3 separate regions of the Homo sapiens genome follow, and regions 1 and 3 are each linked to region 2. The links come from fine-mapping of genetic effects on gene expression. A gene starts in region 2. Each other region holds a variant in brackets. All regions are shown on one strand. Distances are from middle to middle.

Region 1 (4,348 bases), 210 kb before region 2:
GGGCAGGAGAGACTCTGAATCCGCTGCCCCTTCCTCTCCTTCCTCTTTCTAGCTGTCTCAGGGCAGTGGGGCTCAGGAATGGAGGAGGCATGACTCTGCACAACATGGAGCTGCCTAAGGTCTGCCCTCCAGAGGGGCTGAACCTGGGAACCTTCCCTCGGGCAGCATTTTACCCCATTCCAGGGAGTCAGAGAAACCAGCCACACAAGTTGGAGTGTGACCATGACCCTCTGCTTTGGGTCCTCGTGGTTTCTTTTTATAGAGCGGTGGGCCACCTCCAGTGGCCCCAGCTCACTCGGGGCCTGCCGCTCAGCCCTCTGCTAAGGCCAGGCCTCCACATTCTTACCCGGAACCTTCTGTCTAGACAACCAGGGCTGAGATGGGGGTGGAAGGGTGGCAGGAGTCAGGAGCCAGGAGCTGGGGGTCTCTAGAGAATACCACTGAGGCAGAAGGGAGGAGGCCTCAGAGTCTCAGTCCCTTTGAAACCCACCCCTGAGCCCCACGGGGGGGTTGTGTGAGTGAGGGCCGGCTCCTTTAGCAGGGTCCATGCATGAGTCCCACACGTGGGTGTGTGAGGAGCAGGGGTGAACATGGAGGGCTACGAGCCCAGCTGATAGAGAAGGCTCCTCTGAGGGAGCATGCTTGTGAGGGGTTTGGACCAGACGTGGCCCTACTTGAGTCCTGCATCAGTGGGAGGGCCTGGGAGGACTAGGCAGGGGCAGCATCCCCCGTCTCCTAGAGCTGGCTGCAGGAACAGACACACTTTCCAATCTGGTCCTCTGGGACCATCTGGGGCCTCCTCCTGAGTAGGAAAACAGGTGGGCCCTTATGGGTAGCAACCACAGCCCCTGGGGCCACCTATGCCAGGAGACATGGAGCCCTCAGCCCAGGCATCCCTGGCCATCCCAGGTGGAGCAAAGCTACAGAGTGGAAGGGCCTTTCCCCCTGGGGGCATCGGGCTCCCTCTGGGGAAACTTGGCCTGGAGTTGGTGCTCGGGTGTACTCAGGGTGTGTCTGAGATTTGTTGAGAATTCAGACATCGGGTGGGGCTGCTTCACTGTTTTAACTCAGATTTAGCGCCCACCCCGCAGCTTGACCTTTCTTCCCCAGTGGGCTCATGTCTTGCTTTATTTCTCTCTTGGCAGAATGCAGAGCCAGAGCCCCGGAGCCTCTCCCTGGGCGGCCATGTGGGTTTCGACAGCCTCCCCGACCAGCTGGTCAGCAAGTCGGTCACTCAGGGCTTCAGCTTCAACATCCTCTGTGTGGGTGAGTGTCAGGGCCTGGCCTCAGACAGAGGGTGGGTGAGAACCTCCTGGGAGAGGGGGTGCTTCTGGCCCCCTGTTGAGCTGCAAGGGGGCTTCCCAGGCAGAGTGAAACTTTGGGGGTGTCAGGACGAGGATTTGGTTGGTGTCTCTGCCAGAGTCAAGGATAGAGTTAGAGCCAGGGCCTGACACAGCATTGTCATGAAGAGTAAACTGGATCGGGCACATGAAAGTGCTTTGTAAACTGTGGGTGTTTATCACAGAGATTTAGGTTCATTTATTCATTTGTTTGTTCATTTAAAAAACATGTACTCATTTACTGCTTCCCACCCTGTGTCAAGGACGTTATGGTAAACAGCTCTGCCCCTCATCACCATATCCTATGGTAAGTGCTCCAGCACGCATGTGAACAAATAACAGCCCCAAGCAGAGAGGCTCTCGGAGGTTCCCTGGGACTCCCAGAAGGACACAAAGTGCTCTTCTGGTCCCTCTGCAGGTGTCCTTCGGGAAGCAGCCCATCCTGAGTTCCCCCAGCTAAAGCCATGTGGAGCTAGGGCTGTCCGGGG[C/T]GCATGGGTTGAGCCACTGGTGGCTTTAGACCCTGGCCCTCTTGGTCCCATGACCACCCTGGTCCCAGGAGGGGTGTTGTGTAGAGCAGGTTATGTGTGAGGTGATTGGGTCTGCAGTGGTGTCTACACAGCTGCCTGGCTCTGTCTCTTCCCTGCTCCCTGAGGAAATACATCACATATCACACACAGCTATGTCTTCTGTCCAAGTTCACCTTTTGGCTCTTCCTTCCACAGGTTATTTCTGAGGCCACAGGAAAAGATAGTTCCTGGGGAATGGGGGTGATGAGGGATGGGGTGGGCGGCCTGCCCCTTTCTCTTATCCAGGGGCCATGGATGCCTGAGCCCTGCCTGGCCTAGCCACCAGTCAAGGACAGCCCATTTCCAGCCTATGACACCCACTTCTTCCCCTCCTGTCCTCACTGCCCAGGGGAGACCGGCATTGGCAAATCCACACTGATGAACACACTCTTCAACACGACCTTCGAGACTGAGGAAGCCAGTCACCATGAGGCATGCGTGCGCCTGCGGCCCCAGACCTATGACCTCCAGGAGAGCAACGTGCAGCTCAAGCTGACCATTGTGGATGCCGTGGGCTTTGGGGATCAGATCAATAAGGATGAGAGGCAAGAGGCGGGAAGGGCGGCCCCACCCAGCCTCCTCCCACCCCACCTACATTGGCCCCTATAACAGTAGCCCAGCCCTCACACTGCAGGGGGCCAGGGAGGGCCTCTTGGGGAATATCTGAGGCTCTGTGGTCACCAACAGACCAGTTACTCCTTTAGGTGTCTGGAGAAGGGGTCAGCTGCCTGTATCCAGTCAGGGATCTCAGGCAGAAGCTGTTCCCAGAAAGAAAAGGCCAGGGGGCAGCCTGGCTTGGCCCCGAGCCCTGAGCCCCCCAAGCCCCAAGCCCCTGATCTCAGCTGGCAGCCTCCTGGGTGATGGAGCTGTCTGTAGTTACAGGCCCATAGTTGACTACATCGATGCGCAGTTTGAAAATTATCTGCAGGAGGAGCTGAAGATCCGCCGCTCGCTCTTCGACTACCATGACACAAGGATCCACGTTTGCCTCTACTTCATCACGCCCACAGGGCACTCCCTGAAGTCTCTAGATCTAGTGACCATGAAGAAACTAGACAGCAAGGTATCCCTGTCCCCACCTGCTGTCACAGGCTCCATAGTCTTCTGCTGCGATGCGATGTGGTGGCTGCCTCATGCCTGAACACCATGGTCCTCAGGGACCTGGTCGGGGGCTTGTGGGTGGCCCCCCATTGGCTCGGTCCTCTCTCTGTCTTGCGTCTGTTCCTCCTGCTCCAGTGGCCCCCAATGCTCTGGGCTCATTCTCCAGAGTCCTGTGCCCTGGGTCTGACCCTGAGCCCCTTGCTTGCAGCTGAATCATTCTCATTGTCAGCCCCTCCCGCTCCCGATAGTGTTTGTTCCCCTTCGCTCCAGGGAACCTCCCTTCCCATCTCAGCCTCTTCTCTGCTCATTTTCTATCTCTCAATTCCTAATTTCTAGCTCCTCCTTTCACTTCCCCCTTCCTCCCTGACATAAATGTCCTTTGGTTCCTTCTGAGCCCATCAGGGAGAGGAGAGTTAAGGCCCAGAAATGGGATGTGAATGAGGGGTGGGTACTGTAGGGGTAGAGAAGGGAGGCAGCTTCATGGGAAGGACTGGAAGTGCTGTGCATCTTGAAGGGCATGTGACCCCACATCCCTTGTCAGCTCTCACGTGACTGCCCTCCCATCTCAGGAGTTCATTTTTATTGTAAAAAACGGGATAGCCTGGGCCTGGGAGATTTTGGGATCTTCTTATGGCTACTGCTGATGGGTCCTTTTACCTGCTTAGTGGGGAGCATAGCCCCCCCACCACTCCTTCTGTTAGGCCCCAGGCCAATTAGGACCTTCAAAGGATTCTGGGTCAAAGCTGGGTATGCCTAGGGGGACCAGTTTTGGGGCTGGATGGTGATTTGGGGGAACCAGGGCTGTAAGAAGCACTGCAGCCAATTGTTGAAACTCATCAGAATGGCCACAGGTGGCTGGGTTTGCACTATGGCTGCCCGTGGGAGTGGCTCCATCTCTCTGGCCTCCTTCCCCCTGCCCAGGGATATGGCCTGGGCATGTCTATCCATATCCTGGGCATGGCATGGGAACCACCGCTCAAAAGAGCCAACCAGCCTGCTGTCCCCTCCCCTGATCCTGGCAGGTGAACATTATTCCCATCATCGCCAAGGCTGACACCATCTCCAAGAGCGAGCTCCACAAGTTCAAGATCAAGATCATGGGCGAGTTGGTCAGCAACGGGGTCCAGATCTACCAGTTCCCCACGGATGATGAGGCTGTTGCAGAGATTAACGCAGTCATGAATGTGAGCGTTGGGTGAGGGCCTCAGGGCCCTGGGGCCAGAGGGCGAGGAGCCGGCACAGATCTGACACAGCCCCAGGAGACTCTTGTTCCCCAGGATTCCAGCCTTAGCTTCTCCAGGACAGAAGGGTGGGCATCTGGAGCTGGCCAGTCCTACATCT
Region 2 (4,000 bases):
CATTTTTATAATTATAAAAATACAAAATTGTACTAGCACCATTACCTTGGGATCGTGTACAAATGTATTTCCTTTGGTTCCAGGAGGGAAATCTCCAGTACAAATATATTTTAGACATTCAATGATGGTCTAAAGAAATAGAAAATTACATTATTTCGTTATAAGAGAACCACAGAAGTTTACCATAAAATATGAATTCATTACAAAAATATTATTTATCATGGAAACTATAAAAGATAAAATCTGACATTATAAAACCTGTAATAAAAATATGATTAAGTGTTAATGCTGTAAGTTCACAGAAATGCTATATAACTAAGAAGTTATCCTAATATGAAGAATTGTTACTTGGGAAAAAAATAATTATTTTCAACTGAAACCCTTTAAACTAATTTAAGTTAATAATAAGAATGGCTAACAGTTAAGTACTGTATTGTACTAAGCACTCTTACATACATTTATTTAATTCTCACATTAACTCCAGGCTGTAGGAACTTTTTGTTTAAGAGACAGGGTCTCATTCTGCTGCCCAGGCTGCAGTGCAGCTGCATGATCATGGCTTACTGCAGCCTCGACCTCTCGACCTCCTGGGCTCAAGCAATCCCCCAGCCTCAGCCTCCCAAACGGCTCGGATTACAGTCGTCAGCCACCATGCCCAGCCTGTAGAAACTTTTTTTTTTTTTTTTTTTTTTTTGTGGGGGGAGAGAGTCTCCCTCTGTCACCCAGGCTGGTGTAGTGCAATGGCGTGATCTCGGCTCACTGCAACCTCCACCTCCCCGGTTCAAGCGATTCTCCCGCCTCGGCCTCCCCAGTAGCTAGGATTACAGGCATGCGCCACCACGCCTGGCTAATTTTTGTATTTTTATTAGAGATGGGGTTTCGCCACGTTGGCCAGGCTGGTCTCGAACTCCTGACCTCAGGTGATCCACCCGCCTCGGCCTCCCAAAGTGCTGGGATTACAGGCGTGAGCCACCGTGCCCAGCTGTAGAAACTATTTTTAATCTCCATTTTATAAATGAGAAAACTAAGGCACAGAGCAGTGAGGTCACTCGCAAACAATCAGACAACTAATAAATGAAGCGAAAAAGCTGTATTGAGGCAGCCAGTCCTCATAAACACTATACAGTACTACTCTCCCTTCTGCTAGTATTTAGTACAATCCTAAGTACATAACAAGCATTCAACAAATAACATTTTTACAAAAACAAAAGTAAACAAGTTTGGCATTCAATTCTCAACCTTCTCTCTTTCTACACTCTTCACAAATCCTTCCTTTAGACTCTTCTCCCTGCTATACTGACATCGTCTTGCTTTTTCTTAAGCCACTATTCCTGACCAGAATGCCTCTTGGTTATTCTTTCCATTCAAATTTATAAATATTCCCACGGCTTTAAAAAAAAAAAAAAGTCAGTCGTGCACCAACGTTAAATTTTTGACTGAGTTTTAAGAAGAGAAGTTTTCCAAGTTAAGCCCCACTACATCAGTTACATTTTGAATTTATTTATTTTCCATGTATTATGTCTGGACAGTTGGCATACTTGGAAACTCTTTAGTCATGTATGTATCATTTTATAACTTTTAAAGGAATTCTTGTATGGGACAACTACTGGGAAGTGAATGCTATGCTTTGAAAGCAAGGAGACAGCGTTAAAAACATCAATACAGACCAAAGGGCATCCAGTGGGAACTGAACTCTGAGTGAGCGGCGACAGCTCCCGGTATCGTGGGATTCTTAAGTAAACCTTGTCCCCAGGCCAGGTCCGGACATCCTTCCGAGACTGCTTCAGGCAAACTCCTAAGGTCGCTGTAGCCTGCAGGCCACACCCTAAGGCACTTTAAGGGCCTACACCTGTGGAGCCCTAGGGACGCTTCTGCTCCTAAGGAGAGTTCTCAACTTCCCATTTTATTCTCCGAAAGATGTAGCGACCTGTAAACTGAAGGCGGCTACTGAAGACTTACCGTCTTTCCCGCCCCATTGGGTCCAACCAAAATTGTAAGGGGGCTGAAGAAAGTGATAATTTGCTTATCTTTGTCCTCTATTCCAAAACTCCGCACGCCCAGAATGCTCATCTTTTCGATCCGGGACATGTTTGCAAACGTTTCTAATCTCACCAGGGACCTGGAGCCCACAAAGGCTTAACTGAGGCCGAAGCAAGGCGTGCACGGGACGTGAGACCCGCGAATCTCAGGGTCAGGAGGATCCGGGCGGGGAGCGAGGCCACAGGACTGCCAAAAGATCCTGCCAGCCAACAGCGGGAGAGAGGGGGCGGGGGATGGAGCCTTTCCTCCCACACCAGCTGCTTTCCCCGCCGGTGGGGAGAGCGGAGGCGGGGACCAGCCTGGGGCTGCCCGCCGGGGACGCAAAGCCGTAGCCACAATGCGACCCCGCAACCGCGCACTCACAGCTTCCTGCCTCGGCCGCCCTGCGGATCACGTGGGCCTCTAGGCCCGCACGCGTCCACGCCGCTCTCCTGGGGCACGCCGGGAAATCAGAGTCCCGCGGTGCGTGCGCAGCTCCGACTTCCGGGTGCGGTACGGCGAAGCAGAGGGCTAGGTGCTGGGTGCTGTTGCCAGGGGCAGCGGACTTCCGGATCTTTGCTGGGGATGGGCAGCCTGGAGAGGCACTGACTTTTGGAAGGGGAGACCAAGACCTGTGACGGATGGCGCTTCCCAAAGCTTGATCCTGGGACTCCTGGAATGGGGGTAGTGGTGGGGTGGATTGGAGACCCAGGAAGCGGGGTCAGTTCGTGTCAAAACTATTTTCCTTTTCATTCTCATTCTCTCTCTAACGTTCGTGTAGTAATTTCCAGTGATCACATAACATGTGATGACGCCATTGCAGTGGCGGTTAATGGAATGTGCGCATGTGTATTCTTGCGCTTAGAAATACCAATTTTAATTTCTAATTGAGTAAATGTTGATAATTATAACTCACGTACACGCTCTTTGAGGTCCCCCGTAATTTTTTAGTGTAAAGGCGTCTTTAAGACCAAAAGTCTGGGAACTAAAACTAAAAGCAGTCTGCAAATATGAAGAATGTAGAGGTAATCCATTCCGATCAGTGCTCCCAGCAATAGATATCTTTAAAAATAAGGGAAAGAGAAGTTACCTGTCTCAGAAGTAACTGAGAATATTGCTTTCTTGGAAACAAACTTAATGGAGGGATATCACATTTAAGGGCCTAGAGAAACATACATAAAAATTACTGAAACAATAGTGGAGGACATTTAAATGAAACACAAATTTGGAATTACTGTAGTGGTATAATTTGCCTCTGCCTGCCTTGGAAAAATGTAGGAAATGTTTCTCCAGTCATACAATCCCAAGCAAATAATTTACAGAACCTAATACATAAATGTATGTGCCAAAGGATGCAAGTGGGGAAGACCAGTGAGAAATAGTCTCTTGCTGTACCAGGTTAAAAAAAACCGGAAAGTGTCAGTTATTACAAAATAGTTAAAATAACTAATGGAACAAAACATTAAAATTATATAGGAATGTCTTACTTGGCAAAGCAAATGTAATAAAACAATGGGAAAAGACGAAAGACCTTTTTTTATTTTAAAAATTGTAAAATACACATAAAATTTACTGTCTTGGCCAGGCGCGGTGGCTCACGCCTGTAATCCCAGCACTTTGGGAGGCCGAGACGGGTGGATCACGAGGTCAGGAAATGAAGACCATCCTGGCTAACACGGTGAAACCCCGTCTCTACTGAAAACACAAAAAATTAGCCGGGCATGGTGGCAGGCGCCGATGGTCCCAGCTACTCAGGAGGCTGAGGCAGGAGTATGGCATGAACCCGGGAGGCGGAGCTTGCAGTGAGCCGAGACCGCACCACTGCACTCCAGCCTGGGCAACAGAGCGAGACTCCGTCTCAAAAAGAATTTACTATCTTAACCAAGTGTACATTTCAGTGGTGTTAAGTATACTCACGTACAACCGTCACCACCTTTCAACCTCTACAAATCTTTTCACTTTGCAAAACAAACTACCCATT
Region 3 (4,348 bases), 170 kb before region 2:
AAAATGCATTCATTCTTTCACCAGTATGATGATGTCTGTAAATTTTAACAGATATCCTTTGTAGGTTTGAGGAAGTTCCCTTCTATTCTTAGTTCGCTGAGAGTTTTTGGATTGTATATTGGATTTTGTCAAATGTAATTTTTTTTCTGCACCTATTGAAATAATCTTTTTTTTTAAGGTTTGTTAATATGGTCAATTACATTGATTGATTTTTGAATGTGAAACTAGCTTTGCCACTTGGTCATGATGCATTATTCTGTTCATATATTGTTAGATTTATTTGCTAAATTAAAAAAATTTTGGCATCCATGTTCATGAGGGATGTAAGTATATAGTTTTCTTCTAATGCATTTTTCTGGTTTGGGTATTGTGATAATGCTAGTTTCATAGAATGGGTTAGAAAGTATCCCCTTCTTTTCAGTTTTCTAGAAGAATTTGTCTAGAATTGGTATTATTTCTTAAATGTTTGGTAGAATTCATCAGTGAAGCCATCTGGGCTTGAAGTTTTCTTTGTGGGAAGGTTTTCAACTATTGATTCAATTTCTTTAATAGACATAAGACTATTCAGATTATGTATTTTTTCTTTTTCTCTTTAAATCAGGGTCTCACTCTGTTACCCAGGCTGGAGTACAGTGGCACAATCACAGCTCACTGCAGCCTCGACTTCCTGGCCTTAAGCAATCCTCCCACCTCAGCCTCCCCAGTAGCTGAGGCTACAGGTGTGTGCTACCACGCCTGGCTAATTTTTTCTATTATTATTATTTTTTTCTTGAAACAGGGTCTCACTCTGTCGACCAGGCTGGAGTGCAGTGGTGTGATCATGGCTCACTTAGCGTCTACCTCCCGGGCTCAAGCGATCCTCCCACTTCAGCCCCCTGAGTAGGTGGGACTATATGTGTGTGCCACCGCACCATGCCCAGCTAATTTTAATTTTTTTTTGGTAGAGATAAGGGTCTCACTATGTTTTCTAAGCTGGTCTTGAACTCCTGGACTCAACCAGTCCTCCCACCTCAGCCTTGCAAAGCACTGGGATTACAGACATGAGCTACCGTGCCCGGCCAGGTTATCTATTTTTTCTTTTTTTTTTTTTCTTTTTTTGAGACAGAGTCTTGCTCTGTTGCCCAGGCTGGAGTGCAGTGGCGCGATCTCGGCTCACTGTCTCCTCTGCTTCCCCGGGTTCCAGCGATTCTCTCGCCTCAGCCACCTGGGTAGCTGGGATTACAGGCACACGCCACCATGCCTGGCTCATTTTTGTAGTTTTAGTAGGGACGGGTTTCACCGTATTGGCCAGGCTGGTCTCAAACTACTGACCTCAGGTGATCCGCCTGCCTTGGCCTCCCGGAGTGCTGGGATTACAGGCGTGAGCCACCGTGCCCAGCCAGTTTTTTCTTAAGTGAGGTTTGGTAGCTTGTCTTTCACGGAATTAGTCCGTTTCATCTAAGTTGTCAAATTCATTGGCAAAAGGTTGTTTATACTATTCCCTTATTATTCTTTTAGTATGTTGAATGTAGTGGTATAACTTTTCTCATTTTTGATATTGGTAACTTACGTCTTTTCTTTTTTTCCTGATTAGTCTGACTAGAGGTTTATCTTATCGATCTTCTCAGAGAACCAGCTTTTGGTTTTATTAATTTTTCTTTCTGTTTTTATGTTTCCTATTTCATCTATTTCTGCTCTGATCTTTATTTTTTTTTCTTACTTACTTTGGGCTTAATTTCCTCTTTTCTTTCTACTTAAAGTGGAAGCTGAGGCCATGGTTTGAGACCTTTTTTCCTTTCTAATATGGGAGTTTAATGCTATAAATTGCCACTGAGTACTGTTTTAGTGTCATCCCACAGATTTTGACATACTATGTTTTCATTTTCATGTAGTTCAAAATACTATTTTACCTCCTGATTTATTCTTTGATCCTGGGTTATTTAGAAATGTGTTATTTAGTTTCCAAATATTTTTAAATTCTCTAGAGATTTTTGGTTATTGGTTTCTAATTTAATCTCAATTTAGAGAACATATTTTTTATGGCTTGAATGTTTTTAAATTTATTAAGACTTGTTTTATGACCCAGAATATAGTTTTGTTGTTGTTGTTGTTTTCTGTTTGTTTTGTTTTTTTCAAGACAAGGTCTCACCCTGTCACCCAGGCTGGGGTGCAGTGGCACTATAACGGCTCATTGCAGCCTCAGCCTCCTGGACTCAAGTGATTCTCTCGCTTCAGCCTTCCCAGTAGCTGAGACTACAGGAGCATCCCACCATGTCTGGCTAATTTTTTTTTAAATTTAGTTTTAATTTCAATAAGTTTTTGGGGAACAGGTGGTGTTTAGTTACATGAATAAGTTCTTCAGTGGTGATTTCTGAGATTTTGGTGCACCCATCACCCAAGCAGTGTACACTGTACCCAATGTGTAGTCTTTTATCTCTCACTCGCCTCCCACTCTTTCCCCTGAGTTCCCAAAGTCCGCTGTATCGTTCTTACGCCTTTGCACCCTCCTAGCTTAGCTCCTACTTGTAAGTGAGAACATACGATGTTTGATTTTCTGTTCCTGAGTTACTTCTCTTAGAATAATAGTCTCTAGTTCCATCCAGGTTGCTGCCAGTGCCATTATTTTGTTCCTTTTTATGCATGC[C/T]TGGCTAATTTTTAAAATTTTTTGTAGAGATGGGGTCTCACTGTGTTGCCTAGGTGTTGCCTAGCTGGTCTTGAACTCCTGGGCTCAGGTGATTCTCCCACCTCAGCCTCTCAAAGTGCTGGGACTATAGCAGGAGCCACGGCACCCAGCCCAGAATATAGTTTATTATATTTATTTATTTATTTATTTATTTATTGTATTTTTTGAGACAGAGTCTCACTCTGTCACCCTGGCTGGAGTGCAATGGTGCGATCTTGGCTCACTGCAGCCTTCGCCTCCCAGGTTCAAGCAATTCTTGTGCTTCACCTTCCCGAGTAGCTGGGACTACAGGCATGTGCCACCACACCCAGCTAATTTTTGTATTTTTAGTAGAGGTGGAGATTCACCATGTTGGCCAGGCTGGACTCAAACTCCTGACCTCAAGTGATCTGCCCTCCTTGGCCTCCCCAAAGTTCTGGGATTACAGGCATGAGCCACCCCGCCTGGCCATAGTTTATTATCTTTAAATAATAGTAATAATAATAAATAGTGCCTATTTTTTAGGATTGGGGTGAAAGTTAAATAAGAATGCAAACATAGCTGGGAGGTGCACCTGTAATCCCAGCTATTTACAGGTGGATTACAGGCAGGAGGATTCTCCTGAGCCCAGGAGTTTGAGGCTGCAGTGAGCTATGATCGTGCCACTGCTCTCTAGTCTGAGTGACAGGGCAAGACCTCATCTCTTAAAAAAAAAGCATGTAAAGTACATGACCTAGCACATAGCAAATGATCAGTAAGTGACAGCTGATGTCCTTATAAAGCTTATTTTTTATTTAATAATTTAATGTGTCTATTCTGAAATGCAGTCTATGAGCTCATGATATTTTCTGCTTCAAGTGCAGTGTTATATTCCTAATAGCAGAGTTTGAAATACTTAGTCAGTTTGAAAAAATTAAGACTTTTTTATTCCCATGTGTAAAAAATGGCTTCTGGTATGATTCATTTATTTTCACGGAAAAGTCTGAAAAGTGTGTTATGATTATTTTCACAAAAAAAAGTCTGAGAAAAGTTGAGGTTAACTGAATAGAGTAGTATTAGTTGAGGAACCGTTTTCATATATGCCATCACATCCAAGGCTATCTTTTCTTACTACACTGTGTCCTGACCAACTACTCCAGCCCTCTGTTTCCCCACATCGACCCTTGGTTTTCTCCAATTCTTCATCCACAATATAGCCATAGTGATCATGATGTCACTCCTCTGATTGAAAAATCATTCTATGGCTTCATGTTGCTTTTAGGATAAGGTCTAAAAAGTTTAATACCGTCCTTATTATACTGTGTGATTATGGCATTGTCAGTTTCTCTAGCTCTGCCTGCATCCATCTTCCCTTTCCATCTCTGTTTCTTCCATTCTGGTCTCATTTCAGTCCTCAAAATTTCCATTCTTTTTCTTGGCTCTTGCTGTCCACACTGTTCCTATCTGATTCTTACTTGTATTTCAGATCTAAACCTTACCTCTTCTGGAAAGTCCTCCCTGACCCCCTCTCCTTTTTCCCATTACAATTCCTGTGCCTAGTTGATGTCCCTGACTCCCATCTAGAACTCCCTGTTTCTCATTCTGAATACTCATCATCATGATAAACCCAAGATTATACACATCATAAGATTAGGGATTGTGTTTGTCTTGTCACTGTGTCTCTAGTGCCTAGCACAATGCCAAACTCAGGTGTGTGGTAAATGTTTG

What was found.
Region 1: its variant is fine-mapped to the expression of RAD50 in lung (TOPMed, PIP 0.98).
Region 3: its variant is fine-mapped to the expression of RAD50 in monocytes (TOPMed, PIP above 0.99).

Annotation. Positions count from the first base shown.
Region 1 is chr5:132,762,327-132,766,674 of GRCh38, reverse strand. It overlaps SEPTIN8 (septin 8), which reads left to right. Exons shown (of 10, transcript NM_001098811.2): 2 at 1,146-1,266; 3 at 2,256-2,451; 4 at 2,783-2,969; 5 at 4,030-4,191. Among named protein-coding and RNA genes, the nearest start is that of SEPTIN8, 13 kb to the left of the region's middle. The variant C/T (reference allele first, on the strand shown) is at 1,829.
Region 2 is chr5:132,555,413-132,559,412 of GRCh38, reverse strand. RAD50 (RAD50 double strand break repair protein) reads right to left here and starts at 2,436. Exons shown (of 25, transcript NM_005732.4): 1 at 1,960-2,436; 2 at 46-129. The coding sequence starts at 2,088. It also overlaps a transcript of IL5 not described here. RefSeq lists an enhancer at 2,153-2,813.
Region 3 is chr5:132,727,217-132,731,564 of GRCh38, reverse strand. The region is part of intron 2 of KIF3A (kinesin family member 3A); the gene reads left to right. Among named protein-coding and RNA genes, the nearest start is that of KIF3A, 8.2 kb to the left of the region's middle. The variant C/T (reference allele first, on the strand shown) is at 2,624.